7 linked regions of the Homo sapiens genome follow. The protein of the gene in region 3 purifies or fractionates together with the protein of the main gene of each other region. This does not show direct contact. Each region holds a gene or a part of one and is shown on either strand. Other genes may lie near its edges.

Region 1 (4,296 bases), on a different chromosome or scaffold from region 3:
AGGAGGGGCCGCAGGCCAAGGGGAACTCGGCCAGGTTTGCATCCAGCGGGTGGAGATGGGTGTGCCTGGGGACTCACCCTCCCGGTGCCCAGCCCAGCCTGGCGGGGAGAAGCCCCAAGGCCCACAAGTTGGCCATAGACACAAGTGCAGCCTCAATGTGGTAGCCCACTGAGGGGTCCGTGTGGTCCTTGCAGGGTGCTTTTGAATGCTTTGACTTCTTTGCCTCCACTGAGAAAGTGACAGACTTCACTTCCAAAGCCGTTTCTGGCATCTGGTGACAGACCAGCTGGAGGCGAGTGGCAGCTGCCTCCACGGGCAGGGCACTGGCTCTTCTGGGCCACAGGCCGCACCCGACCCACCTCAGCTCCACGCCCTGCCTGGCTCTGTGGCCACTTGCATGTAGGCTTTGCCCCCACCAAGGTGTCTCCAAAAACCCAGCCCCTGCCTGGCTTGCCAGATGTGAGGCCTGCCTGTGACTGTCCCAGCAGGAGGCAGGGCACTTGAATTCACACATGGGGCCTTGTGGCCAGCACTGTCCTGGGGCCCCATAGGCACTTGTGTTTGCTGCCCTTGACCGGGCCTCAGGCCTCCCAGGACCTTCTCGACTCCCTGTTGGTTTTTTTTTTTTTTTTTTTGAGAGACATTCCTGCTCTGTCTCCCTGGCTGGAGTGCAGTGGCGCCACCTCGGCTCATGCAACCTTCGCCTCCTGGGTTCAAGCGATTTTCCTGCCTCAGCCTCCCGCGTAGCTGGGATTACAGGCGCCCACCACTATGCCCATCTAATTTTTGTATTTTTAGTAGAGACGGGTTTTCGCCATTTTGGCCAGGCTGGTCTCAAACTCCTGACCTCAGGTGATCCTCAGCCTCCCGAGGTGCTGGGATTATAGGCGTGAGCCACTGCTTCTTGCCTCAACGCCCTGTTCTAACAGCAAAGTCTGGCCTTGTGTCCACCTTGACTTCCTGGGGCCCCTGGGCAAGGCCCGGCTTCAGGCAGACAGCCACGGCCAGGAGAGACAGGGCAGCGGCAGACCACGGATTTTGTGGGATCAGTGTTTTCTACACGTTACAGGCAGGCCTCTGGCTGGAGGATGCCTGGCAGCCCCAGGCAGGGTCCGGGTTTCGTGGGATCAGTGTTTTCCACACATTAGAGGCAGGCCTCCGGCTGGAGGACATCTGGCAGCCCCGGGCAGGGTCCTTGTCAGCAGGGCCCACGTTCTCAGCTCACTGTGGCCTTTGCACAGACACCTCACTCACTACGTGGTTTAGCAAAAGTTCACTGAGCCCCTGCTGTGCGCCAGATGCTGGTCTAGGTGCTGAGATGGAGCAGGACCCGAAGCAGACAGGAAAAAACAATCCCTGCCCAGAGCATGCACTAGGCAGAGCCGGGAGCAGACAGATGCCTGTGTGCTCTGTATCAGCTGCTGTTAGGTGCTCTAGGTAGAATGCAGGCAGGGCAGGGGCCGGGGAGGGCAGGGGCTGGCATTTTAGATGATGGGAGGCCAGCAGAAGCCTCACTGAGAAGCTGAGTTTTGAGCAAAGACCTGAAGGAGTGGAGGGAGGGAGCCACAGGGACCCTGAGAGCTGATGTTCCAGGCAGAGGGAGCCGCCAGCGGAGAGGCCCTGGGCGCAGGGGGGCGGGGGTGGGGGAGACACCCGTGTGTCTGGAAATGGAACGGGGGCAGAGGGGGCCTGCAGGACACGACTCAGACCACAGAGGGTGGGGACCGGGTGACTCGGGATGCACTGGATGCTCTGCCTGGTCCCCATCTGCATTTGCATTTGCCACCCGGCTCCTGGGACCCCCTTGCCCTCTACTTTGGGACCAGGCCTTTCTGACTCTCCCTGTCCCCCACTCCTTGTTGTTCATGGGAGCAGAGAGTGTGGTTTTGGGGCTAAGGAACACTGGCGCCCACATGGGAGGAAGTGCCAGGCCAGGCCCTGGCCCCAGCGCCCTGTCATTTGCAGCCCTCGGGGCTGATTATGGGGTGGGTCAATTTCTGCCCTTCCTCCCCCAAACCCCTCAGGGCAGGACTATTCCACCAGTGTGAGGAACAGGAGAAAAACAAGGGGGGCCTCTCCAGGGTCCCACCGAGCCCAGGGGGCAGCAGCCTGGCCATGGCGATCACTCCTCTGGCCCCTGCAGCTGTGTCCCCAGGGAGGGGAGGGGCTGCACTGCCCATGCCATTGTCACTCCATGGCATCTCTTCATTGCGTCTCTGTCTTGTCTCTGTGTGTGTCGTGCTGTCCTGTCCCTGCGTGTCGGATGCACGTCCTGTGTGCCCCACTCCTTGCTGGGCCCCCACCCACCATTGCCTGGGACCCCAGACCATCGTGCGGGGCAGCAAAGGTGCCAAAGATGGGGCCCTCACGCTGCTGCTGGACGAGTTTGAGAACATGTCGGTGACACGCTCCAACTCCCTGCGGAGAGACAGCCCGCCGCCGCCCGCCCGTGCCCGCCAGGAAAATGGGATGCCAGAGGAGCCGGCCACCACGGCCAGAGGGGGCCCAGGGAAGGCAGGCAGCCGAGGCCGGTTCGCCGGTCACAGCGAGGCGGGTGGCGGCAGTGGTGACAGGCGACGGGCGGGGCCAGAGAAGAGGCCCAAGTCTTCCAGGGAGGGCTCAGGGGGTCCCCAGGAGTCCTCCCGGGACAAACGCCCCCTCTCCGGGCCTGATGTCGGCACCCCCCAGCCTGCTGGTCTGGCCAGTGGGGCGAAACTGGCAGCTGGCCGGCCCTTTAACACCTACCCGAGGGCTGACACGGACCACCCATCCCGGGGTGCCCAGGTAACCCATCCCCCGCCCCAGGGCCCCCACTGTCCCCTGCCCGTTGCTCCTCTGTCCCCACCTTCCAGCCCCGCCCCACCACCGTGCATCTCATCCTGACCACCCATGTGTCTGTCCCATCGCTGGGTCTCTCTCCTGCTTAGGGAGCAGAGCTGCTCCCTGGCACCCATCACTGACAGCTACCTCTCTTCTGTTTCAGGGGGAGCCTCATGACGTGGCCCCTAACGGGCCATCAGCGGGGGGCCTGGCCATCCCCCAGTCCTCCTCCTCCTCCTCCCGGCCTCCCACCCGAGCCCGAGGTGCCCCCAGCCCTGGAGTGCTGGGACCCCACGCCTCAGAGCCCCAGCTGGCCCCTCCAGCCTGCACCCCCGCCGCCCCTGCTGTTCCTGGGCCCCCTGGCCCCCGCTCACCACAGCGGGAGCCACAGCGAGTATCCCATGAGCAGTTCCGGGCTGCCCTGCAGCTGGTGGTGGACCCAGGCGACCCCCGCTCCTACCTGGACAACTTCATCAAGATTGGCGAGGGCTCCACGGGCATCGTGTGCATCGCCACCGTGCGCAGCTCGGGCAAGCTGGTGGCCGTCAAGAAGATGGACCTGCGCAAGCAGCAGAGGCGCGAGCTGCTCTTCAACGAGGTGCGGGCGCTGCTGCCCTGCCGCCCTGCTGGTCCTCCCACCCCTCCCTCCCACCCTCCCTCCCCTCCTCCCTCCTCTCCCTGCACTCCTCCGTGCTGGGCCAGGCTCCCCTCCTCCCCTCACTCTTCTCCCTCCCCAGGCCGTCTCGTCCGCCCCAGCTGGGTCCCTGCCTCTGTCCTCACAGCACCCTCACCCACATCTCTGTCCCTGAGCCCCAGACCCAGGGTTCCTCGGGCCACTGACCCCCGACCCAGTGTCTTCCAGGCCCCTCGCACCCACTGAGGCCCGCCTGGGCTCCAGGGTACAGTGTCCTCCAGACCTGCCCCTCCTGGGTTCCCTGTGCCCCGCCCTGGCCTCCACTCCTGGGTGTCCCTCGGCACAGCCCACACAACCACCAAGAGTATGTTTCTGACGTTCAGGCCCACCCCCTCCCCGTCCCTCCTTAGAGACCCTGGCAGTGCCCCGTAGCACCCTGACGATAGGAAGCCCAGGTCCCTTTGCCGGGTGTGTGAGGCCCCTCTCGACCCCGTTGCCCATCACAGTGCCGGGCTGCACCATGGAGCTCCTCGCCTGGGTTCCTCATCCTCCCGCCGACACACGCCTCTTCTCTCATCCTTGCCCTTGTCCGGGTCTCAGCCCTGTGATTGAACGCTCTCTTCCCACCTGCCCCCCAGCACTAGCCCAGGACTGACCTGAGATGGGCGTGTGCCCAGGGGGGCGCGCCCCCAGAAGGGAGGCGTGGGCTTCAAGCTGGCTCTGAGGCCCACGTGGCTGTGGCAGTAGGGGAGGGCAGTCCAGGTGGCCCCAGTGAGCACAAGCTTAATGTGGAACTGCAGGGGGAGCCAGGGGGGTGGCGGTGGCTGGGTCTGGCACTGGCA
Region 2 (3,218 bases), on a different chromosome or scaffold from region 3:
ACTGAACTGTGTAACTGTTCAGATTTCCTATTTATGAAGCTAGAAACCTTAGCGGCAAATCTTTGGCCCAGTCAGTAGTAACTTTACAGGACTTTGAGGTATGTATACTCAAGCCCCACTCTTGCCTCCACTTTCTGTCTTTGGTTCCACTTCTTAATTTATGCTGTTGTTTTGTTTTTATATCTTAAGCTGTCTTAAATTTTTTCTGCAACAAGTAAACAAGGAAATCTATAAAGAAGACAATATACATATATTTTAGTTTATTTTTGCTCTGATTATTATGAGCGTATTTTGTTCTTTAAAAAGAACTTAAGAATTATAATCTTTGCTATTTATAGCATATCTTAATATTATGTAGAAAATATAAGTGTTATGCAAAGTAGTTTGTTTTGCTGATTTTTCCTCTTTAACCAACTTTTTTTGTTTTTTTCAGTTCATCTGCACCTAGAGCTTTTTCAAGAAAACTTAGGGAGGTGGCAAGGAGCACGTATAGCTGTACTTAGGCCTGGTTTCAAGGGCAAAAGCTAGAAGCCTTAGTAGGACCTAAAACTTTTTGTTTAATTGACAGTTTAAAAAAATTTTGATATTAGAGAAGTGGGAAGACAAAATTATAGAGTCATGGGTACAATATCTAAAAATGTGTGAATAAATTCTAAGAAAAAAAAAAAAGTAAGCTCTTAGCTCACAGCATTCCATGTTCTTAAAAACATGGCACCAGTCCTTGACAGAATCTCATTGAGTCTATGTGTCAAGCACTGAGTAGATGCTCAATAAACAGCTACTAAATAAAAGAATAAATTAAATATATTCTAGTGTCCTGTTACTGAACCACAGATATATCTATATTATATATAGTACTATATTCACATATACAATGTATTAGAAAGAGCAGTCTTTTGGGGGAAGTTATAAAATGATAAATGATCAATAGATAGTTTATTTATCACAGCAGTGATTATATTTTACATCAAAAATGACAAATTAAAAATGAAATATATCACTATCTATATAAGTATAACCTACTGATCTCCCATATTTTAATCCATTTTATGACCCAGAGACATTTTAATAGATACTACAAGATATATCATAACATTAATTATTTCTTAGAATTTTAAATATGGCTTATGTATCAGGCTTAACGAGTCAGCTAAAGTCTTTATCAGCTCCCTCAAAACTGATTCCAGGGTAAATTGGAAAGATTTGAAATCTGAATAGCATATAAAAGCATAATGTCTATGTTTTCCATAGTTAATTTATTTGCTGTTAGGCAGTTCTTCAGCCAACATCCTCTGTTTCTGACCAAAGTAGTGTATCTCAAGCAGGAATAGTAAGACAAGCAGGGTCATAGATCTTTATTGTTTCATCCCAAGAACAGTCAGCCACCTAGAAAACAAAAATGAAGTAAGAAGAAACGTATTTAGACATACAAAAATTCAAAATTGACAGCAAAAACTCAAGTCATTTAGAGTGTCGTAAATCATCCACTAGTAAACATATTTTTGAATAGGGAAAACATAGGGCTACGTTTTTGATAAAAGGTCCATATTCCCTTTTTAGGATATACCTCAGGGTATTCCAACTGATTCCCATTGATTGAGTATATTCCAATTGGTATATTTCAATTGACTGAGGTTTCCTATAAGAATGTCCCCCACCTTCACTTCACCCAACAGCTACATAATTCCCTACTATCTGATATAAATGTCGAAAAGATACGTTCCAGACTGTGAACAAGATGCTGTGCTCAATATTGTGGGACTGGAGAGGAAGATAAAGTAAAGCTCTTGCCTTCAAAAAATGGCTCATTCAAGACTGAGTGTGGAAGGTGCACTAACAGAGACTCTTAGGGGGACTATATGATTCCAGCTGGGACAGTGTCAGACAACTTCACAATGCCATGGCATTCCCACTGGACCTCTGTAGGAGGCAGACATAAAAGACAAGGACATTCACATCTACAGAGCCATAGGAAAACATGAAGGGAAGAAAGTCCAGGGTGTTCAGGAACTATGCATTAAAAACTTAGTGAATATAGCAATGTCTCCGGGTATAAAATTAATATATGAAAACCACTGTGTTTCTATATACTCGTTTTTTAATAGAAATGGATGAGGCAATTTTTAAAATTTATGTGGAAATGCCAGGACTTAGCCAAAAGAATCTTGAAATGAAACAAAGCTGCACTACTTAACACTAGCTGACTTCCAGACTCAGCACGAAACTACTGTAATCAAGACTGTGCAGGATTAGGATAAAGACAAGTAGATCAAAGGAAGAGAACAGAGTTCAGAAATAGGCCCCACACTTGGACAAATGGCTTTCAACAAAGGTACCAAAACAATTAAAGAGCAAAAGGAAAAAATAGTCTTTTCAATAAATGGTGGCAGAACAACTGAATATCCATAGGGAAAAAAGTGAATCCTGACCCCAACTTTGCACATAAAAATGAATTTGAGATGCACCACAGACCTAAATATAAAAGCAAACTGTATAACACTTTCAGAAAAAAAAAAAGGAAAATATATTCTCAATACAGAGGTAAGTAAAGATTTCTTAGGGATACAAAAAGTAATAATCAAAAATTTGGTAAGTTACACTCAATCAAAAATAAAACTTTTGCTCATCAAAAGACACTGTTAAGAAAATGAACAGGCAAGACACAGTTATATAAAATATTCATAAAATATACACCTGACAACTTGTATCAAGAATACATAAAGAACCAATACAACTCAATAATAAAAGGCAATCTAATGAAAAATGATGGGCAAAAGTAAGCACATAAAAAAGTGCTCAACATCATTAGGGATTAGGGAAATGCAAATAAAAATGACAATGAGATACCACCATATATTCACATTATGGCTAAAATTAAAGATTGACAACACCAAATGTCAGCAGGGATGTGGAACAGCTGTGATCACATACATTGCTGGTAGGGAAGGTATATGGTACCACCATTTTGGAAAACAATTTGGCCGTTTCTTACCAAGTTAAACACATACCTATCTTTTGACCCAGTAATTCCACTCCCAGATATTTGTCCAAGAAAAATGAAAACATATGTTTGCAAAACAATGTAGACACGAATGTTCATAGCAACTTCATTCACGATAGCAAAAAATCGAAAACAAGGCTGGGCAAAGTGGTTCATACCTGTAATCCCAGCATTTTAGGAGGCTGAGGCAGATGGATCACCTCAGGTCAGGAGTTTG
Region 3 (4,296 bases):
CTGGCAAGAAATCAAACCTTTGAAAATCAGTCTTAGTGCTAAGTAACTTGTGTCTTGTAATTCAGTAATGAAGTATTCATTGAATGCCTGACAGGCACTGCTAGGTAGTGGGTATATGTATGTTCGTGAATAAAGTAGACATGGCTCTTGCCTTCATGGAGCTTTCTATTCTAATAGGGGGAACAGATGAAGATCACCTACTTGTATCATTAGAAATAGAATTATGTTCTGTGAAGGAAATGAGGTACAGTGAGAAAAAATAATCCAGTTTAGGATGGCAGCTACCTAAAGGAGGTCATCGAGGAGGCCTTTCTGCAGGAGGGACTTTAATAGAAAACTGAGAGAAGATAGAATCCTGTGGAACAACTGAAGAGATAAAGAATTCTAGGCAGAAGGAACCTGTTTAAAAAGTCATGAGGCAGGAAAAAGTTTGGCATGTTTCAGGAATTGAAAGGAGGTTGGCGTGGTTAGACTCCTGAGTAACGGGGTGGCAGGGGTCAGATGGTGCGAGGCTTTTTATGCGAGTATTCTGAGTGCTCCATGAATACATTGATGGGCTTAAAGGAGAGGACTGATAAAATACAGCTTGTTTTAATACAGGTTGAGTATCGCAAATTCGAAAGTCTCCAATGAACATGTCCTTTGAACTTCATGTCCATGATTTTGGAGCATTTGGAATTTTCAGGTTAGGGTCACTCAGCCTGTATTACTTTTGATGGGGCCAAGAGTGGAAACTGAGGGACCACTTAGGTAATTCACCTCATGGAGGCAAGAGATGGTGGTGGTTTGGAAAGTTAGGATAGTGGTAGTGAAAATGCAATGGATTTGAGCTCTCTTCTAGACAAAGAATTAACAGGATTTCCTGTTAGCTTCGCTGTGAGGAGTCAACTGAAGTAAAGAATCAGAGGAGGATTGTTAAGTTTCCAGTGTGAACAGCTGGGCGTGGGGATTCCTGGGATGGCAAAGCCTGGAGAAAATCAGGTGGTGGGGGGCATGTTAAGCTTGAACTTTGTTGCGTTTGAGGTGCTAGTGTGGCATCCAATAATGGTGCCATTAAATGGTACCATTACTACTAAACATTTTTTCCCCCTAAAGCTCTAAACTTGTCCAGCCCACAGCTCACCATCTTTAGATCTTTTCTCAAATGTTACCATCTCAGCAAGGCCTTCCTTGACCAGCCAAACTTATGTTGAAAACCCCACACTGACCATCTCCCTTCCCTGCTTAATTTTTCTCCATAGTTAATTTTCACCATCTGACATGTTCTTTTTTTTCCCTAATACCCAGTGTGATAGCACATCTGACATGTTCTTTATTTTACTTTGTTATTAACTGAACTGCTTTCTCGCTATAAGATCGTCAGGGATTTTTGCGTATGGATCACTGCCATATCCCCAGCACCTAAAATAGGGTGTGGTCTATAGTAAATGCTCAGTAAATATTTGTTTATTGAATATATGAAACGACTTGAAGGATTCTGTAGTGTTTCCACGATTAAATTTTCTTACTAGTATTTGTTCAGGCTTTTGGCTTAAAACAGTTCAGTTCTCTTTTTTAAGTGAATGTAGATTTTGTATATACACACACATATATATGTGGATTTGCATTGTTTAGGAATAAAAACCTAAAATCTACCATTCATATTTTAATTTTCTTAATTTTCAGGTTACAACTGATGGAAAACCAAAAATCGTTGATATCATTGATACAACAGGAAGTGGCGATGTGAATACTGCTACAGAAGTAGAGCCAAAGGATGGTGAGATTGTTGGCCTTTCAGGAAGAGTGCTTAAGGTGAGACCTTTTGTCTTCTTTTTGAATTTTTTTTTTTTTACTCTTGCCTCAAAGCATCTAATGTTTTTACCTTACATTTGGTGGTGGTATTAGTTATCCATTGCCACATATCAGATTACCTCAGAACATCCTGGTTTAAAATGACAAATATTTATTACCTCGGAGTTTCTGTGAGTCAGGAATCTGGGTGTGGCTTAACGGGGTTCCAGTCGCCCTGGAGGTTGCAAATGGTTAGCCATGGCTGTGACTTCAGCTGAAGGCTCAGCTTGGGAGAAGAAGGGGAAGTTTGTTTCCAAGCCTACTGGTGGGTCACTGGCAGGCCTTGGCTCCTTGCCATTGGGCCTCTCCGCAGTGCTGCAGTACCTGGCAGCACCTTCCCTGGGGGAGTGAGCCGAGAGAGTCCCCACGATGAAAGCCACAGGCTTTTTATAAAAGTGACCTTCTAAGGGACCACCTATCACTTGACTATATTGAGCTCATTGGAAGTGAGTTAATAAATCTAGCACACACTTAAGGGGAAGGGATTTCACAAGAAATGAATCATTGGAGCTGTCTTAGAAGAAGCCATTATTTTGTTGTTTGATGAGGTAATTAGAATTGGGCGGTATTTTTCAGTGAGCTTGCCAAATTTTATGTTTTGAATACAAAGATAGAGAAAGTAACCACATCATAGCTTTGCCTTCATGTTTTACTGTCCCTTCATAGTATTCCCAGTTAACTTGACCATGAAGAAATACTTAGGCTATAGTAGCTGTTAACTTAAATGGCCAGCTTTGTCTTTTTTTTTTTTTTAAACTTCTTTTTTTCTTTTTTTTTTCGAGACATAGAGTCTTGCTCCGTTGCTCAGGCTAGAGTGCAGTGGTGCAATCTTGGCTCACTGCAACCTCCGCCTCCCGGGTTCTAGCAATTCTCCTGCCTCAGCCTCCCAATTAGCTGGGATTACAGGTGCCCGCCACCACGTCCAGCTAATTTTTGTATGATTAGTAGAGACAGGGTTTCACCATTTTGGCTAGGCTGGTCTCGAACTCTTGACCTTGTGATCCGCCTGTCTCAGCCTCCCAAAGTGCTGGGATTATAGGCGTGAGCCAGGGCACTCGGCCTACCAGCTTTGTCTTATTCTATGTCCTTGGTAGAAAGGCCTGGGTAAGCTAAACGTAAAAAATAATTATAAAGCAAGCACAGAGGAGCTCATGAGCTAAGGAGCATGAAGGATGGATGGCAAGAATTTGTGATCCTGTACTCTTAAGCAGCATTAGTTTGGAACATAAAATTATGGTTATTTAGTTAGCTTTTCCCACCTTTTGCCATCTATCTGAATTGTTCTTAGGTCTTGTCTTTTAAGTAAGCTTGTTGTGGCAGCATATTGGCTTTCTGTGCCGTGTAATAAAGCACCACAGACTTAGCCGCCTAAAACCTTGTGTATTCCTGTATTTATTATATCACTGATTCCATGGGGTAGGAGTCCAGGCATGGCTTTTTGTGGGTCTCTGCTCAGGGTCTCACAAGACTGCAGTCAAGATTAAAGGCTCAGCTGAGGCTCAGGCTTCTTTTCCAAGTTTACATGATTGTTGGAAAAATTCATTTCATTGCAGCTGTAAAACTCATGATAGCTTGCTTCTTCAAGGCCAGTAAGAGAATCTCTGACCTTGGTGATGACCCCAGTCTTTCTTTTAAAGAACTCACCTGATTAGTTCAGGCCCGCTGAGAATCATGTCACTTTTGATTTGCTCAGAGTCCTTAATTGCGTCTGCAAAATCCCTACACCTTCTTTACGTACCATAACGCAATCATGGGAGTGACATCTCATTATATTCACGGGTCCTGCCTTCACTTAGGGGAGGGACGTGGGTCTTCTTAGAAATCTGCCTGTCATGGGCAGATAGCAGCCATTAATAATCCAGGTTCTACTTCCTTTTCTGTGTGTTAGGAACTGATTATCTGTGTCCCCACCCCCTGCCAAAATTCATACATTGAAGCCCTATCCCTCTTTGTGTTGGTATTTGAAAGTTGGGCCTTTGGGAGGTATTTAGGGTTAGATGAGGTTATGAGTATGTGTCCCCTCAGGATAGGATTAGTACCCTTATAAGAAGAGACATCAGAGAGCTCTCTCTAGAGCAAGCTCTTTCTAGGGCATATGAGGACACAGCAAGAAGGTGGCCTCTGTAAGCCAGGAAGAGGGCTTTCACCTATGCTCAACCATGCTGGCACCCTGATGCTGAGCTTCCAGCCCCTAGAACTATGAAAAAATAAGTTTCAATTGTCAGAGTCATCCAGTTTACGGTGCGGGTTGAGAATCCCTTATCTGAAACGCTGGGGACCAGAAGTGTTTTAGGTTTCAGATTTTGGAATATTTGCATTGAATATACCAGTTGAGCCTCCCTAATCCAAAATCCGAAATGCTCCAAAATCCAGAACTTTCTGAGTGCCAACATGACACTCAAAGGAAATGGTCAATGGAGCATTTCAGATTTTCGGGTTAGAAATGCTCAGCCTTCTGAATTA
Region 4 (4,120 bases), on a different chromosome or scaffold from region 3:
TTTCATGTCTCAGTACTTTTTGTACATGCAGGTCCCCTTTCTGAAATTCTCCTTCCCATCTCTAGCTGTTCTTTCTGTGGTCAGCTCAAGCCTTGTCTTATCTGATGTTCTTCAGCAGACTTAGGTACTTCTTTCTCAAATGCTTATTGAGCCTTGTGCATACCCATTATAGCAGCTACCACATCTGTTTGACCTTTCCCTGGCTGATAACCTTTTTGAGCATTGGGATTCTATTTTTTCATTTATATAAATCCAAGACTTACTATAGTAAGAACTTGGTGTTAGTAGACAATAGGTATTTATTCAGCAAATGGCCAAGCATATTCATTTTAATTAATTAATTAATTTTGGGACAGGGTCTTGCTCTGTTGCCCAGGCTGGAGTGCAGTGTTACAATCATGGCTCACTGCAGCCTATCTCCCAGGCCCAAGCCATCCTCCCAGCTTAGCCTTCCACGTAGCTAGGACTACAGGCTTGTGCCACCGTGCTTTGCTAATTTTTTGTATTTTTTGTAGAGATGGGGTCTGACTCTGTTGCCCAGGCTGGTCTTGAACTCCTGGGCTCAAGTGATCTTTCCACCTCAACCTTCCAAACTGCTGTGATTATAGGTGTGAGCCACCATGCCAGCTAAACATATTCATTTTAAAGACCCAAATACCTCACATTCCATTCAACCGCTCTCTCCCCGCCACCAGGACCCACCTTCATACTTTCTCCACTGATTCTGCCTATCATTAGTAGTTATACTTGGAAAGCAGAGGAATTTGTAGATGTGCCACAGATGAAAGATGTTAAGAATGTGTTATAGTGTTCTGATAAACCAGGTCTTTAGCAATATGTAATAGTGCCTACAGGTTGCACTGAATTAGAGCATTCTGTGTAAGGTCTGTTGCTTTGTTTTATGTAAAGTGAATAGGTGAGTAGTGACAAAGAACTAGGTTGTTCTTTCATTTTGGTTTTATTGGTGTTGACATTTACTATCAGTACCTGCCATTTTTTGAAATAAACATTATAATTTTTACATTACTTGGGTATGTTTTTAAGTCTTTTAAACCTCAATATCTCCTCACCTAGAAAAAATATTTTAGGAAACCGAAACTATGATGTTAAATAGTTTGCACAAGGTTTTGAGGCTAGTTGGAGCTAGGACAAAGAGCTTCTAGTTGAGAGATTTTTATAAACTGTGAATTCAGCCTTATTCCAGGGTTTTTTTGTTTTTTGTTTTCAAATTTTTTCTTTCAGCAAAGTAATAAAATGTTTAATTTTTATTAAAATATTAATGTACCTTTTTTTTTTTTTCCAGAGAGTAATGCCTTCTAGCTTTTTCCTGCTGTTGCGGTTTTTCTTGAGAATTGATGGGGTGCTTATCAGAATGAATGACACGAGACTTTACCATGAGGTATTTATTGTTGTTTAATGAATATACTAATTGATACTGGGCTTGTTTGTGTTGTTTAATTGTCAATCTGAGAATTTGAAATTAAACAATCTATATTATATGGCAGTCTTTCTAACTGTTAAGTCTGAGTGTTTCACATTCACTGTTGACTGCAGGCTATCATCAAAACATTACATTTCCTTTTACAAAGGTTCTGGTGACTCAAAATGTTTTCTAAAAGACACTCCCTAATTGGGGAGGGGTCTTTTGAGACAATTTTGTATGTACTTAATCCATGTTTAAGAAAACTGTCCTTTAACTCTTACCTTTGTTTACAGTATATGTTGTTTATGTAATGTCCTGATGTACATTAATATACAGGAAGTACATTAATATATTAATCAGGCCAAGGCCGGGCGCCGTAGCTCACGCCTGTAATCCCGGCACTTTGGGAGGCCGAGGTGGGTAGATCACCTGAGATCAGGAGTTCGAGACCAGCCTGGCCAACATGGTGAAACCCTGTCTCTACTAAAAATACAAAAAATTAGCCAGGCATGGTGGCACGGACTTGTAGTCCTAGCTGCTACTTGGGAGGCTGAGGTGGGAGGATTGCTTGAGCTGGTGAAGGTTGAGGCTGCAGTGACAGAGCAAGACCCTGTCTCAAAGAAAAAAAAAAAAAAGAAACATACCTAAGTTATACAGTTAGTAGGTGGCAGAATTGGAATTTGAACCTAGTAGGATAGGATTGGATTGATGCTTTCTAAACCCTTCACTTAGGGATTTTTTCTTGAAATAACATGGTTATAGTGATAGACCTTTTTTCTTTTAAAAGTGGTGGCAAAGTACTAAACATAAGCTATATTTTTGTTCCCCAGAAAGAGAAATCTAAATTTTATTTTTATTTATTTATTTGAGATGGATGGAGTCTTGCTCTGTTGCCCAGGCTGGAATGCAGTGGCGCGATCTTGGCTCACTGCAACCTCTGCTTCCTGAGTTCAAGCAATTCTCATGTCTCAGCCTCCCTAGTAGCTGGGATTACAGGCGCCCACCACCACACCTGGCAATTTTGTTGTTGTTGTTTTTAATGGAGTGATGGGGTTTCACCATGTTGGCCAGGCCGGTCTTGAACTCCTGACCTCAAGTGATCCAATTGCCTCGGCCTCCCAAAGTGCTGGGATTATAGGCGTGAGCCACACCGCTCCTGGCCTAAATGTTAAAAATACTGTTTTAATTAAACAATATTGAATTTTAGGAATTTATCCTAAAAAGATTCTTTTATATAATAATCTACTAATATTAATTGGGCAATTACTCAGAGTTATACGTACATGAATATTCACAGTAGTATTGTTTATAATAGCAGAAAGGAAGGAAAGTAGGAACTTAATGCCCATTAAATGGCCATTAATTAAATTGTTTATATCCATATGGTATAAAATATATAATTATTAAAATTGGTTGCAGAGATTGATATTTAAGTAATTTTGAAAGATATTCATTTCAGTGTTGAACTTTCAAAAGCAAGTATGAATCTACTTACATAAGATTCTCTGTAGAGATTTCTAAGTATTAAAGATAGTGTTACCTATAAGCTGTGATCACTGATGATTTATACTTTTATATTATTTGATTTTTTTCCTACAGTGACTATTAATCTGTTTTTATTAATACAAGAGAGTGAAACCTTAAAGGCATATAATTTTGTGGCTTTTCTTTTATTGAAAAGTGTTTCAAGAAGTAAATTATAATAAGTTGCTGTTCTAAAACCTAACCAAAAATCTTAAATGGGAAAAATTGAAGTACAAAAAAGGTGATTTTAAGTAAGCTATTTGGTAAGAGCTTTATGGAATGGGAAAGAATAAAAATTTTAAAGCATGTTTTGCAACATAAAAGTAGCACAATTACGTAGGTAAATGATAAGATAGCTTAAGGGAAAGATGTTTCAAACTTGAAGTAATTTTAAAATCTCTTGCATATTTCATTTATACAAATTCATTATATACATTATTCATTTATATACATATTCTTTCAAAGTAAAATCTTTGCTATGTTTCTCTTACATGGTAATTATAAAATCTGTTTACATATGTGTATCATCATTATAATGTATAGAAATTGGAAATAATAATCCAATTTGAGTTAAATAGGAGTTATCTCAGTGTAGAACAAGATGTTCTCTTTAGACTGCATGCTGTTTTGACAACCTATCCTAAAATGTAGGCAGTCTGTTTTTAATACAAAGGATTTTGTAAATCAGTATAATTAAATTTATTGCAACTGTTTATTTTTAAATACAGGCTGACAAGACCTACATGTTACGAGAATATACGTCACGAGAAAGCAAAATTTCTAGTTTGATGGCAAGTACTTAAATTTCAGTTTTTAGAAGTTAATTTTAATGTTTCATTTTAATTTAAGTAGCATATACCCCTGACCCCAACCACCCAAGTTTACATCCCTAAACCCATTCATTCACCTAATGGGGCTCTATAGGATAAATTCTATGGGAGCATAACTTTTCTGACCTTACCTCAAATACAAGAACATTTAGAGCTGCTAGGTACTTAAGCCTCATCTAATCTAATTTTCACATTTTGTTCTAGAGAAATTGAAACCCAGAGGTGTGACTTACTCTGAGTCACATAGCTGGCTGGTGATGGATGTTCTTTACACTTACCACCCTGCCGCCTTATTTCTTTCTACATAGTCTCCTTTTCTCTTCCGAAAATGTGGTGATTCTGT
Region 5 (4,296 bases), on a different chromosome or scaffold from region 3:
CCTCATCCATGTTCCCATAGTGTTGTATAAAGACCTGACCTCACAGTCTTATAGTTCCTAGTTCCTAGTCTCACTCATTAGACTGTGAATTCCTCAAAGGCAGAAGCTATATTTTAAACATCATTGAATCCCTAGCACTTACTACAGTTCTGGCATAGTTGTTTTTAATTGACTTTTCCTCTCTACAGCTGAGGAGGATGAGGACAAGGAAGATGATTTCCGAGCTCCCCTTTACAAAACAGTGGAGATAAAGGGCATCCAGGTGCGCATGAAATGGTGTGCCACCTGCCGCTTTTACCGTCCCCCTCGATGTTCCCACTGCAGTGTCTGTGACAACTGTGTGGAGGTAAGCACCCTGGGTGGGGTAAGACTTCATGCTTAACCTTCATTGTCTTCATCCTAACCATATAATAGATTCTTAGCTTTGGATGTGGTATAGTCCTGTCTAACTACGTTGGCCACATGGTCCAGCTCTGTCAAATGGTGTTAATAATGACATGGCATGAGAGGCAGAGCATAAATATTATTGCAGGAGGGAAGCTTTAACTCAATATGGGCATAGGCTTTCTTTTTTATTTATTTTTACTTTTTGTAGTGATGAGGTCTCACTGTGTTGCTTGGACTATCTCAAATTCCTGGCTTCAAGTGATCCTCATGCCCTGGCCTCCCAGAGTGCTGAGTGCTGGGATTACAGGCATGAGCCATTGCACTAGCAGGGTGTAGGCTTTCTTGACACCAAGATTTATAGTTCTAGCCTTCTATCTATTGGCTCAGTTTTGGTTATTTATCCTGGCTTTGCATTTTCTCTTCCAGAAAATCATGCTGTTGTGTTTCAATTTGTTGTAGTTGTTTTCCTGCCTGTCCTTCTGCATCCCTTGTCCTTTTTCCATTCCATTTTCACTTAGCTATAAGCAGTTACCTGCCAAATCTTCCTTCTAATCCTCTTTTCTTATGAATCTTGATGTTTCTGCAAAACCTCTGACATTCGTCACTTTTAGAGTTCCTTGGTCACATAGGATAAACATTGAGAGCCGGCCTTGGTCTTTTTTATATATATATATATTTATTTATTTATCGAGACGGAGTCTCGCTCTGTTGCCCAGGCTGGAGTGCAATGGCGCAATCTCGGCTCACTGCATCCTCCGCCTCCCGGGTTCAACCGATTCTCCTGCCTCAGCCTCCTGAGTAGCTGGGATTACAGGCACGCGCTACCACGCCCGGCTAATTTTTGTATTTTTAGTAGAGATGGGGTTTCACCATGTTGGTCAGGCTGGTCTTGAACTCCTGACCTCGTGATCTACCCGCCTCGGCCTCTCAAAGTGCTGGGATTACAGGCGTGAGCCACCGCGCCCGGCCAATTTTTTTTTTTTTTTTTTTTTAAGAGATGGGGTCTTGCTATGTTGCCCAGTACAGTGGCTATTCACAGGCAGTCATCATAGTTCACTACAGCCTTGAACTCCTGGGCTCAAGCCCCAGCCCCCCAAGTAGCTGGGACTACAAGTGTGCACCACTACGCCTGGTTGGCCTTGGCCTTTGACCAACCTCTGGAAGGTCTCCCTTGCAGATTTATAGAGCAAAATAAACTGGATTTAATTTTGAACTAATTGGTGACCATGATCAAAACTTAGCTGCCATTTGTTTCTCTTCTTGACAGAAGTAATTTAATGCTATGGTCCAGGGATGCCTCTCATCTGTCTCTCTTTGTCCCTAGGAATTTGATCATCACTGCCCCTGGGTGAATAACTGTATTGGTCGCCGGAACTACCGTTATTTTTTCCTTTTCCTCCTTTCCCTGACAGCCCACATTATGGGTGTGTTTGGCTTTGGCCTCCTTTATGTCCTCTACCACATAGAGGAACTCTCAGGGGTCCGCACGGCTGTCACGTATCCTTCAAGGCCTTTTAGATTGTGGGATTGGAAGGGGGAGGAATGAGGGCTAAAGGGAAAATGGCTGCAGTAGGGGCCGGGGAAAGTGAGGTCATGTTGCTCTGTTCTCCTTGATTGTTTGGCATCAGAATGGCAGTAATGTGTGTGGCTGGCTTATTCTTCATCCCTGTAGCTGGCCTCACGGGATTTCACGTGGTTCTGGTGGCCAGGGGACGCACAACCAATGAACAGGTATGGAGAAAAGTGACGAGAGACCCCTGAAGAGCAGGTCATGTCTCTTTAGCCTTCTGATTAGTGTGCAGTGTAGTGCTTCCACAAAGAGATGCTTAATGAATACTTTTCATGATTATGTAGAGATTAATGGTAGGGAGTGAGGTAGTCCTAGTTCCTCATGTAAGTGTAGAGGCCATGTAAGAATAGAGGCCATTTCTCACATATACACCATGGAATACTATGCAGCCATAAAAAAGGATGAGTTCTTGTCCTTTGTAGGGACATGGATGAATCTGGAAACCATCATTCTGCGCAAACTGTCGCAAGGACAGAAAACCAAACACCGCATGTTCTCACTCATAGGTGGGAACTGAACAATGAGAACACTTGGTCACGGGGTGGGGAACATAACACCCTGGGGCCTGTTGTGGGGCAGGGGGAGCGGGGAGGGATAGCATTAGGAGATATACCTAATGTAAGTGACGAGTTAATGGGTGCAGCACACCAACATGGCACATGTATACATATGTAACAAACCTGCATGTTGTGCATATGTACCCTAGAGCTGTAAGTATAATAATAATAAAGATACTCTCAAAGAGATACTAAGACAATAGAGATAAAGGCTGAATTTTGCCCTAAAATATCTTTTTTTATTTTTTATTTTTTTGAGACAGAGTCTTGATCTGTCGCCCAGGCTGGCATCCAGTGGCGTGATCTTGGCTCACTGCAACCTCTGCCTCCTGGGTTCAAGCGATTCTCCTGCCTCAGGCTCCCAAGTAGCTGAGATTACAGATGTGCATCACCACGCCCAACTAATTTTTGTATTTTTAGTAGAGACAGGGTTTCACCATGTTGGCCAGGCTGGTCTCGAACTCCCGACCTCAGGTGATCCACCCACCTCAGCCTCCCAAAGTGCTAAAATATCTTTTATTTATTTATTTATTTATTGTAATTTTAGTAGACACGGGGTTTCACCATGTTAGCCAGGATGGTCTCGATCTCTTGACCTCGTGATCCGCCCACCTCGGCCTCCCAAAGTGCAGGGATTACAGGCATGAGCCACTGCGCCCAGCCTAAAAATATATTTTATAACAAAATAATATCTATCTCCAAAGAAAGTCTTGGATGGTTTGGCATCATCACCTGAAATATCAATTGAGAGACCCAAACCAAACTGAAACTAGACAATATAGCATAAAGAATAAGATGATAGTTTTTTAAACAATACTCACCATAGAACTTGGTATCCAAATAATAGTATTCTTTCTTTAGTTTGTCAAAAATCATATTAATAGATTTTTAAATTTAAAGTGTAGCAAGACATATGTATATGTACATATATGTTCATATACATATAAATATTTAAGATCTTCCTAAAAAAAAAAAAGAATAGAGGCCACTTCTTAGTTAACAGACATTTACTATATGCCCACTGGATACTGGAGAATTTAGGCTCTGAGTTTATAGAAACAATGAAAGACTTAGGCTAGCCCTCAAGAAGCTTATAGTGCTGCTTACAGGAAAGCAATGATTTTTGTGCATATAATAGTAGCTAACCTTAATTGCTTTTTTTTTTTCTTTTTTGAGACAGAGTATCGCTTTGTCACCCAGGCTGGAGCCCACTGGCTGGAGCCCACTGGCTGGGGCGCAGTGGCACGATCTCGGCTCACTGCAACCTTTGCCTCCTGGCTTCAAGCAATTCTCCTGCCTCAGCTACCCAAGTAGCTGGGATTGCAGGTGCCTGACACCATGCCCGGCTAGTTTTTATATATTTTTATAGTAGAGATGGGGTTTTGCCATGTTGGCCAGTTTGGTCTCAAATTCCGGACCTCAGGTGATCCACCTGCCTCAGCCTCCCAAAGTGCTGGGATTACAGGTGTGAGCTGCCATGCCCAGCCCTTAATTGCTTATTCTTTATCTTAGTTTTCAATATTTAGAAAGCTATCCCATTTTACATGAGGAAACTGAGGTTTTGGGTCAGCAACCATGAGGTAGACCTAGGATTTGAACTAAGGACCCTGACTGTAGATTCCCTGCTCTTAACCATAACATATATAAATTTCTTGTGTTTTACTCATTTGCATAGCCCTCAGATAGTGAGTGCACAATAACTTGTAATAGATTTGTATTTTGGCCTTTGGAAGTCAAGGTCTCATCTTCTAACCTGGTATTTTTTTTCTCCCTCTAGGTTAC
Region 6 (4,915 bases), on a different chromosome or scaffold from region 3:
CCTGTAGTCCCAGCTACTTGGGAGGCTGAGGTGGGAGGATCACCTGAGCCCAGGAGGTCAAGGCTGCAGTGAGCTAAGATTGTGCCACTGCACCCCAGCCTGGGCAACAGAGTGAGACCCTGTCTCAACAAAATAAATAAATATATTTTGAATTAAATTAAAATGAAAAAACAGCCTATCAAAAAGTGTGGGATGTAGTGAAAGTAGTGTTTAGAGGGAAAGTTATAGCATTGAATGCATATATTAGGAGAAGAAAGATCTAACTCAGAGAGGGATGAACAGGTGAGGCATAGGGGATTTTAAGGTAGTGAAACTCTTGCAGGGCAGGGGAGCCCCAAAACTGGGACACCGTCCGGGAAGGCTCTTGGCTTCGTCCAGGAAGGAATTCAAGGGTGAGCTAGAGGAGGAAGAAAAAGGTTTATTGAGGCAGCAGGGTTACAGTTCTGTGACTGTCCCTGCAGAGCAGGGCCACCCCATAGGCAGTGCCTGGAGAGCAGCAGCTCAGGGCACTTCTATAGTCACATTCATACCCACTTTTAAATACGTGCAAATTAAGGGCAGGTTATTCAGAAATTTCTAGAAGAAGGGTGGTAACTGGGTCATTGCCAGGGAATGAGTAAACTGTTCATGGTGCTGGTGCTCATGCCAGCCAGTCTTCAATCTGGCCCTGAGTCAAGCCCCACCTCCTATCTCAAAACTATTCTGCATGGTGCTGTAATGGTGGATACATGACATGTTATGTTTGGCAAAATCCATAGAACTGTAGGACACAAGAGTGAACCTTAATGTAAACCTTAATGTAAATGGACTTTTGTTAATTATGATGTATTAATATCAATTCATCAATTGTAACAAATGTATCACAGTACTGTTAATAATAGAGGAACTTATTGGCAGGAGAGAGAGCTTATGGAACTCTCTGCACATTCAGCTCAATATTTCTGTAAGCCTAAAACTGCTGTGAGAAATAAAATCCAACCTGGGCAACATAGCAAGACCTTGTCTCTACAAAAAATAAAAAATGAGCTGGGTGCAGTAACGCATGCCTGTAGTCCCAGGTATTCAGGAGGCTGGGGCAGGAGGATCCCTTGAACCCAGGAAGTTGAGGTTGCACGAGTCATGATCATGCCCCTGCACTCCAGCCTGGATAACAAAGCAAGATCCTGTCTCCAAAAAATAATAAAATAAAATAAAAATCTACTAATTGAAAGGGAAAAAAGCATAGTATAATACCATTCTTAACAAAAAGAAAAGAGACCTGTGTTTGTGTGTGTGTTAACATTTGAAAAAAATCTGGAAAGCTCTATATCAAAACGTTTATAGAGGCAATTTTGTAGTGTTAGAATCATAGATGATCTTTCCACTTCCTGGTTTTTCTGACTTTTTTTCTTTTTGCAGTGGGCATGTATTGCTGGAAAATACCACAGACAACTGTGAAAGGATTTCATCAACAACAAAAAAAAGATAAAGAAGGAAACACAAAATCTGTTAAATAAGATTTATGTTGGCTGGAGGTTAAAATGCATTTCCAGAGCAGAGTTCAGAGAAAGGCTGGGCTGCTTGTTGCTGGCTAAAGGACAAAGGGTAAGTTTCAGGAAGCAGAAGAGTGAGCAGATGAAATTCAGCACTGGGATCAGGGGAGTGTCTGATTTGCAAAAGGAAAGTGCAAAGACAGCTCCTCCCTTCTGAGGAAACGAAACCAACAGCAGTCCAAGCTCAGTCAGCAGAAGAGATAAAAGCAAACAGGTCTGGGAGGCAGTTCTGTTGCCACTCTCTCTCCTGTCAATGATGGATCTCAGAAATACCCCAGCCAAATCTCTGGACAAGTTCATTGAAGACTATCTCTTGCCAGACACGTGTTTCCGCATGCAAATCAACCATGCCATTGACATCATCTGTGGGTTCCTGAAGGAAAGGTGCTTCCGAGGTAGCTCCTACCCTGTGTGTGTGTCCAAGGTGGTAAAGGTGAGTCCAGGCCTGCCTGGCCAGGGGAGGGGTGGCTGAATGTGCAAGAGTTGAGATTGAGAATGAGAGAGAGAGAGAGAGAGAAGCAAAAACCTAGAACCCAGGGTGCAAATGTGAGTACAGAGAGCTGAGATCTTCTGGGATGGTGGTTTCTTATTTATCCACACAGCATGTTAAAATAGATTCTGGGGTGAAATCCTACATCCCTATTATTAACAAGTGACCCTCCCCCCTACTTCCCGCTGAAGTTTATGAACCACTGTCCTGGGCGATGCCCATTTCAGAAATAGGGAACTGAATCCCAGCTCTGGTAAACAGTTTGCTAATTCGTGGCCAGGCTAGGGGCTCACCATTTCTGCAGTGAAGAATCATATGTTTTGAAAGCAAATAGCACCTGCTGGCTGCAAGACCTTGAGCAAGTCACTTAACTACTCTGTGTTCCAATTTCCTCAGCCATAATCCCCAATACTGTTGCAGTCTTGCCAGTGCACCTTAATGTAGCAGCTTCTCACTGAATTAGTACCCAAGGTTCTTTGTCCTGCATCCAAGAAAATTAAGGAACATGGACACAAACGTGAGCTTGGAGCAAAAGTTCAGTAAGCAAAAGAAGAAAGCTGTCTCCACTGTGGAGAGGGAAGTCTGAGTGGATTGCCAGATTGCAGCTGAATGCAAAAAACTTTTATAAGAAACCACTCTCCTCCCTGTAACTGTTTGAGAAACTTTTTATCAGTAAAGCTGTGCAACTTCCCTTACCTTATGCAGCTGTGGGTATATCTCTAGGCAAGCATAAAGCGCTGCTTCTCTTGTATGTATAACTGTGGATTTGTTTTAGGTAAGTCCCACTCCCTGCGCCAGTTTCAGGCAGGCCGCTCCTCCAGGGCCCAGCCTTGACCATTTACCTAACTGATTTTTCCTCTACTTTCCCTCAATACCTCATAGGGCCGTGTAGATTAAGTAAAATAGTAAGTGTGAACCACCCAGCATAAGCTAGTCCTGGGCATCGTAAAGGACAATGGGAAAAGAACACAGATCCTGGAAGAAGGCCCCCAGGTTTGAATTGTATTTGCCACCTACTAGCTGGGTGATGGGGCTGATATATTATCTCACTGAGCATCCATTTTCCCATCTGTAAAATGGGAACTAATGATAATGGCATCCAAATCATAGCATCATTGTGAGCATTATAGGAGTTTAAGACATGCAATGCCTTCAGAACAGTGGCTAGTGCTCCATAATGTTAGTGATTGCTCCTGTCATTTTATTTAGGGAGGTTTGCCTCACTAAGCATCAATTATTATTTTTGTCGTCTTTTTCAGGGTGGCTCCTCAGGCAAGGGCACCACCCTCAGAGGCCGATCTGACGCTGACCTGGTTGTCTTCCTCAGTCCTCTCACCACTTTTCAGGATCAGTTAAATCGCCGGGGAGAGTTCATCCAGGAAATTAGGAGACAGCTGGAAGCCTGTCAAAGAGAGAGAGCATTTTCCGTGAAGTTTGAGGTCCAGGCTCCACGCTGGGGCAACCCCCGTGCGCTCAGCTTCGTACTGAGTTCGCTCCAGCTCGGGGAGGGGGTGGAGTTCGATGTGCTGCCTGCCTTTGATGCCCTGGGTGAGAGCTCCCAGCTTCTTTTTCTCCCTCTTCCCATTTCTGAGCAGAAATCTCCCACAGTTTGAGAGCTTTTTGCCCCAACAGGGCATCTCTCTAAAGCAGGGTGGGAGGAGATCTTAGGATCTGTCCCGGGGCAAGAATGAATACGGTCATGATCTATCACAGGAGAGACATTAAACAGCAAATTGGCATAATGTGGGGACAAAGACATTTCTTACAGAACATCTGCAAGGCTTACTGGTTCTGTTTAAGGCAAAATGTGTGAATTTTATCTTTCTAAAATCAGGCAGCAAAGATGTGGCTTAAAGTTCATGTTACTCTCATCTTTGTCCCAACATGAGATCTCATCAAACGTATGCAGCACGTTGGGAGATAGATATTTATAATTTGCAGGAACATTTGGACAGGAAGTGTAACCTCTCAGAGGCTCCCTTGCCACATCAGGAGAATTGGTAAAACCACACTACCTGTATCATATCATTATTTTAAGTGATAAATGATCATCTACATTCAGCTCTGATGAGTAATAGGTGTTCAAAAATAGGAACTTCCAGCCAAGTGTGGTGGCTCATGCTTGTAATTCCAACACTTTTGGAGGCTGAGGCAGGAGGGTCGCTTGAGCCCAGGAGTTCAAGACCAGCCTGGGCAGCAAAGTGAAACCTCATCTCTACTAAAAATTTTAAAACATTAGCCAAGTGTGGTGGTACATGCCTGTGGTCGCAGTTATTCAGGACGCTGAGACTGAACGATCACATGAGGCCAGCCAAGGATTCGAGGTGTCAGTGAGCCACGAATGTACCACTGCACTCCATCCTAGGCACAGAGCAAGAGCAAGACCCTGTCTCAATCAATCAGTCAATCAGTCAAAACTATGAATTTCCCAGCTGTATATGAAGGCACCTCAAAACACCACAGTGAACTCACAGAGGGACACGGAATAGTTTAGATTTTAATTTTTTGAGGGAAATGCGATGACATCTGTCACACACCGCACAAACGGCTACTATTAAACTGAACTTACTGATTAGTGGCTACTAATTAATAGTTGGTCATTAAGCAGTAATTAGTGATTAATTATCAAGTAATTAGGACTTAATTAAAGGAACTGTCACAGTTTCCTTTAGTCCTAGGGCAGCCATGAAAAAAAAAATGCTGACTCTCCAAAGACACCAGGGTATGAGAAAGTTTTGGATTCTCTCCTTTGTGCCATCTCCTGTGTTGGGGGCTGAAGTACAATGGTTGTAAAAGACAAGAGGGAGAAGGCTGGTCACAGTGGCTCACGCCTGTAATCTCAGCACTTTGGGAGGCCAAAGTGGGGGGATCACTTGAAGTCAGGAATTCAAGA
Region 7 (4,296 bases), on a different chromosome or scaffold from region 3:
TTTTTTTTGAGACGGAGTTTCACTCTTTTGCCAGGCTGGAGTGCAGTGGCGTGATTTCGGCTCACTGCAGCCTCCGCCTCCCGGGTTCAAGCGATTCTCCTACCTCAGCCTCCTGAGTAGCTGGGACTACAGGCCTGCGCGCCACTACGCCCAGCTAATTTTTGTATTATTAGTAGAGACAGGGTTTCACCATGTTGGCCAGGATGGTCTTGATCTTTTGACCTCGCAATCCACCATGCCCGCCGCAAACATGAATCCTTTGCATTAGTCAGGCCTTCATGGAGTTGGCTGAGCGACCAGCTCTTCTTCCAGGAAAATCCTCTATAGCCCCAGTTTCGACATGCCACTTACTGATTAGGTCCATGACTTCTCGGGTTAACATCCTCACCAGTTGCTCCTCCAGCATCTCTTGAGACTCTGGGTTTTCATCTGCAGCCTCATCTTCTCCACTGCAGAAAACCAGGGGGCCAAGTTCCACAGGAGTGCAGAAAAGGAAGGACAAGGAAAGCAGCGACCCTAATCAGACTCTCTCTGACCACTTTCTTCTCCTTTGGGTCTTCGTTTTATGCAAAAGTTGGGAATGGACAGCAGTGATCCACTGAAGGACATTATTACTAGTGACTCTGTCCAGTTGGATAGACATTACAGAATTAAAATAAGTGAGTAAGGTAACAGTAGCCCCTATGAAGGCTGGATCTCAGAGTCTGCCTGCTGGTAACAGCCTGTCCAGACAAGCCATGTATCACCTAGGCTGAGAATGACTACAACCTACTGCTCTTCTACCCTGGGACAGCAGAATCCCTGCCCGCTTCCTTTTCCCACCCCAAACCTGGCTGCCAGTTCATCCACCAAGAAGAGTGGGTAGGTATCCCTTACCACAGCAGGCTCCTTTGGTTGATAACTTGCCATTTCTGAGAAAGCCTCTGGGAAAACACAAAGGAAATAAATGCTAGAATTGGGGAAAGGATTGGAACACATAATATCTAAAGTCAAGTCCACTTCATGATTAAAATTAGCCAAGGATGATTCTAGGCATCAATGACAACTTCTGTAGACTCCACACCACAAGGTTAAAAAAAACATCTATGGTTTCTGTAACCTATCCCACATCCCTGATGAAGGTGGTATCTCAAACACCTCTTTGCTTGGAAAGAATTAACAACATTTTTAGAATTCCTGGGTCTCTAGACATACCTGTTCTCCACCCAGCTGGTCCCCCTGCTTAATTCTAGAGTAAGGATAACAGACCCAGCATTCCTGGCAAGGGTCTGTGAGCAAGCATTCCTCTTTTTACCTCTCCTCAGTTAACAGGAGGTTAGGAGCAGAATCTGCAACTGAAGCTGTCTTGTGGCAATTAAATCAGTTTAGTTCTTTGGGGGCTGCTCGATCCTACAGCAAGGATAGTCAGCTGGGGTAGAAGCTCTGCCCAGCCAGTCTGGCAGGGCTAGTAGACAACACTTCTAGGAGCTCCTGACTTGCAAAGCTCAGAAATGGCCAGAGGCCTTAATAGTACTCTTTGCTTCCTGTTCCTGACTTATCTCTTACCATATGGAGGTAGGTGAAAAGAGGTCCGAGGATGGGGGATACCAGGGCTTCATAGTGCTCTGGGGGACAGAAGAGCACCAGAGGCTTTACAAAGACACGTGCTGCAACAAGTTAAGAAATTTTAGTGCATAGGCACACATCTCTCACCTGCCAGGTGGTGGGTTGCACCCCTGGGCAGAATCAATCCCTAAAGGATTTGCCAGATGTCAAAAATATCCTGTGTTAACAGTGAAAAAATCTTAAAGTTCTTTTCCTAAAATCCTAAATGGCACTGATATTGAATTCCATTATACTCTTAGTTTAGCTGCATTTCCGTCAGGCTGCACATTATGGTCACTGGCCCAAAAAGTAGGAATAAAAAAATAGGAAGGAGGACATCCTTGTAACAAACTCTCCTTCACCATTCTCCTTATAATTTCAGGTAAGAAAGATTTGCTGGCTGCGGTGGCTCACACCTGTAATCCCAGCACTTTGGGAGGCCAAGGCGAGTGGATCACGGGGTCAAGAGAGCGAGACCATCCTGGCTAACATGGTGAAACCCCGTCTCTACTAAAAAAAAAAAAAAAAAAAAAAAAAATTAGTCGGGCATGGGGGCGAGCGCCTGTAGTCCCAGCTACTCGAGAAGCTAAGGCAAGAGAATGGTGTGAACCTGGGAGGCGAAGCTTGCAGTGAGCCGAGATCACGCCACTGCACTCCAGCCTGGGCAACAGAGCAAGACTCCGTCTCAAAAAAAAAAAAAAAGAAAAGAAAGAAAGAGATTCAACTATTAATAAGGGTCTGAATGAGAATGAAGTGTTAAAACTGCTGCTTCTGGCTGGGTGTGGTGGCTCAGGCCTGTAATTCTAGCACTTTGGAGGCTGAGGCAGGAGAATTACTTGAGCCAGGAGTTTGAGACCACCCTGGGGAACATAATACAGACCCATCTCTACAAATAATAATAAAAACTAGCTGGGTGTGGTGGTGCGCATCTGTGGTCCAGTCCAGGCTCTTCAGGAAGCTGAGGTGGGAGGATCACTTGAGCCTGCACTGAGCTTTGATGGCACCACTGCATTCCTGCCTGGGTAACACTGAGACCCTGTCTCAAAAAAAAAAAAAAAAAAGTGCTTCTAAAAATACAGAAAAGGGATAAAAGTTTTATCTTTCACAGCTGGGCATGGTGGCTCACACCTGTAACCCCAGCACTTTGGGAGGCTGAGGCAGGCGGATTACTTGAGGTCAGGAGTTTGAGACCAGCCTGGCCAACATGGCGAAAACCTGTCTCTACTAAAAATACAAAAAAATTAGCTGGGCGTAGTAGCATGCGCCTGTAATCCCAGCTACTTGGGAGGCTGAGGCACATGAATCACTTGAACCCAGGAGGTGGAAGTTGCAGTAAGACAAGATCATGCCACTGCACTCCAGCCTGGGCAATAGAGCAAAACTCTGTCTCAAAAAATAGGAATAAAAATCAGCTGGGCGTGATGGTGCACACCTGTAATCACAGCTAGTTAGGAGGCTGAGGCACAAGAATAGCTTGAACCTGAGAGGCAGAAGCTGTGAGCCGAGATCATACCACTGCACTCCAGCCTGTGCAACAGAGTGAGCAAGACTGTCTCAAAAAAAAAAAAAAGTTTTATCTGTAATAATTCCGAGAAGGGGGAAGGTAAAAATTTACCCCTAAGGAAAAGTTTATGGCCATCTGGACTGCCTTCATGTTTTCCCTGCAATCTGCCAGTGTTTTTAATGACATGATACACTTAGATACATAATCTCATCTCTTCCTTCCAGTTCTGCCTCTTCCCTCTGGTTGCTGTGACCTGTTTTGTTTCTCTCTCTAATTTTCTGACCTTTTGGGTTATGTAGAGACTTTTGAAAGGATATGAAGCATGGGTCTGAGTCGGTAGTCAGGAATATTGTTCAAGTTGACAAAGGCTGAGCTGAGAAGCTGGGTAGCAAGGTCCTCCACAGTATAGAAGTCTTGCTGCATGGAAGGGCCTGCCTTCCCTAGGATATGAAAACTGTAAAGGGGAAAAAAAGAGCATTGAAAATGACAAATCCAACATCTGTTACTGCCAGCCCTGTCCCATGAATTTCATTTCTAGCCTACAATAAGGTTTTTCAGCCAGAAGAGCAGTTGTATTTACTTAAGAGAACTTATAGATACAGCATCTTTTTAAAGACAGATGTTGGTGGCCGAGATCAGCAGTAGCTTTCATTACTATTTAATGTGGACTTACAATGGACGATCTCATTAGCTTGGCTGATTAGTGTAGTGGTTAGTGAGGCCAAAGCCCATGAGGGCCAGTTACCTCCCCAACCCACAACCAGTATCCAGCCACCCGACTCCTATGAGAAGTATGCCGCAAGCAGTGTAGGGTCTAAGCAATCCCCACCACTTTTAGCTTCGACTTGGGTTTCATCATTTTATACACTAGAAACACAGACAAGTTGGGCATGAAGCAGGCTGGGATTGTGAGGCTCATATGACAATTACAAAAAAAGCAAATGCAGGAAAGCAGGCTTTCATTTCTATTTAACACTAGAATGATAAGTTTCCTATCAAACTCTTGCCTCGCCTTACCTGTACACTAGATGAAAAGTCCAACCCATGGACATTCCTATACAATACATATCGAGGAAGAAAATATGGAGAGGCAGCATTGGTTCCTTACCAGTTTTCATAGAGGGTAGAGAAGAAACGCTGCATTCTTTCCAAGACGGTTTTGAAGACAGGAGAGTCATTGAGTTCCAAGAGAGGTTGAGGTAATCCTA

Evidence for each region.
Region 1: the proteins of TPP2 (region 3) and PAK4 purify together in Homo sapiens (co-immunoprecipitation; one large-scale study listed by IntAct). This does not show direct contact.
Region 2: the proteins of TPP2 (region 3) and PEX7 purify together in Homo sapiens (co-immunoprecipitation; one large-scale study listed by IntAct). This does not show direct contact.
Region 4: the proteins of TPP2 (region 3) and TIPRL fractionate together in Homo sapiens (co-fractionation; one large-scale study listed by BioGRID). This does not show direct contact.
Region 5: the proteins of TPP2 (region 3) and ZDHHC5 purify together in Homo sapiens (co-immunoprecipitation; one large-scale study listed by IntAct). This does not show direct contact.
Region 6: the proteins of TPP2 (region 3) and OAS1 purify together in Homo sapiens (co-immunoprecipitation; one large-scale study listed by IntAct). This does not show direct contact.
Region 7: the proteins of TPP2 (region 3) and XPO5 fractionate together in Homo sapiens (co-fractionation; one large-scale study listed by BioGRID). This does not show direct contact.

The regions. Positions count from the first base shown.
Region 1 is NC_000019.10:39,170,593-39,174,888, forward strand, and holds part of PAK4 (serine/threonine-protein kinase PAK 4), read left to right. Parts: intron 1-2,325; coding exon 2,326-2,784; intron 2,785-2,983; coding exon 2,984-3,418; intron 3,419-4,296. UniProt on the Homo sapiens protein: Serine/threonine-protein kinase that plays a role in a variety of different signaling pathways including cytoskeleton regulation, cell adhesion turnover, cell migration, growth, proliferation or cell survival.
Region 2 is NC_000006.12:136,911,626-136,914,843, reverse strand, and holds the end of PEX7 (peroxisomal biogenesis factor 7), read right to left. Parts: intron 1,387-3,218; coding exon 1,318-1,386; 3' UTR 910-1,317; downstream 1-909. UniProt on the Homo sapiens protein: Receptor required for the peroxisomal import of proteins containing a C-terminal PTS2-type peroxisomal targeting signal. Specifically binds to cargo proteins containing a PTS2 peroxisomal targeting signal in the cytosol.
Region 3 is NC_000013.11:102,603,128-102,607,423, forward strand, and holds part of TPP2 (tripeptidyl-peptidase 2), read left to right. Parts: intron 1-1,665; coding exon 1,666-1,794; intron 1,795-4,296. UniProt on the Homo sapiens protein: Cytosolic tripeptidyl-peptidase that releases N-terminal tripeptides from polypeptides and is a component of the proteolytic cascade acting downstream of the 26S proteasome in the ubiquitin-proteasome pathway.
Region 4 is NC_000001.11:168,195,244-168,199,363, forward strand, and holds part of TIPRL (TIP41-like protein), read left to right. Parts: intron 1-1,303; coding exon 1,304-1,399; intron 1,400-3,675; coding exon 3,676-3,738; intron 3,739-4,120. UniProt on the Homo sapiens protein: May be a allosteric regulator of serine/threonine-protein phosphatase 2A (PP2A). Isoform 1 inhibits catalytic activity of the PP2A(D) core complex in vitro. The PP2A(C):TIPRL complex does not show phosphatase activity.
Region 5 is NC_000011.10:57,688,320-57,692,615, forward strand, and holds part of ZDHHC5 (palmitoyltransferase ZDHHC5), read left to right. Parts: intron 1-188; coding exon 189-346; intron 347-1,711; coding exon 1,712-1,884; intron 1,885-2,015; coding exon 2,016-2,118; intron 2,119-4,291; coding exon 4,292-4,296. UniProt on the Homo sapiens protein: Palmitoyltransferase that catalyzes the addition of palmitate onto various protein substrates such as CTNND2, CD36, GSDMD, NLRP3, NOD1, NOD2, STAT3 and S1PR1 thus plays a role in various biological processes including cell adhesion, inflammation, fatty acid uptake, bacterial sensing or cardiac functions.
Region 6 is NC_000012.12:112,905,255-112,910,169, forward strand, and holds the start of OAS1 (2'-5'-oligoadenylate synthase 1), read left to right. Parts: upstream 1-1,707; 5' UTR 1,708-1,785; coding exon 1,786-1,965; intron 1,966-3,281; coding exon 3,282-3,570; intron 3,571-4,915.
Region 7 is NC_000006.12:43,527,283-43,531,578, forward strand, and holds part of XPO5 (exportin-5), read right to left. Parts: intron 4,294-4,296; coding exon 4,197-4,293; intron 3,543-4,196; coding exon 3,406-3,542; intron 2,095-3,405; exon of another isoform or gene 2,074-2,094; coding exon of another isoform or gene 1,967-2,073; intron 1,644-1,966; coding exon 1,546-1,643; intron 924-1,545; coding exon 877-923; intron 450-876; coding exon 352-449; intron 1-351. UniProt on the Homo sapiens protein: Mediates the nuclear export of proteins bearing a double-stranded RNA binding domain (dsRBD) and double-stranded RNAs (cargos). XPO5 in the nucleus binds cooperatively to the RNA and to the GTPase Ran in its active GTP-bound form.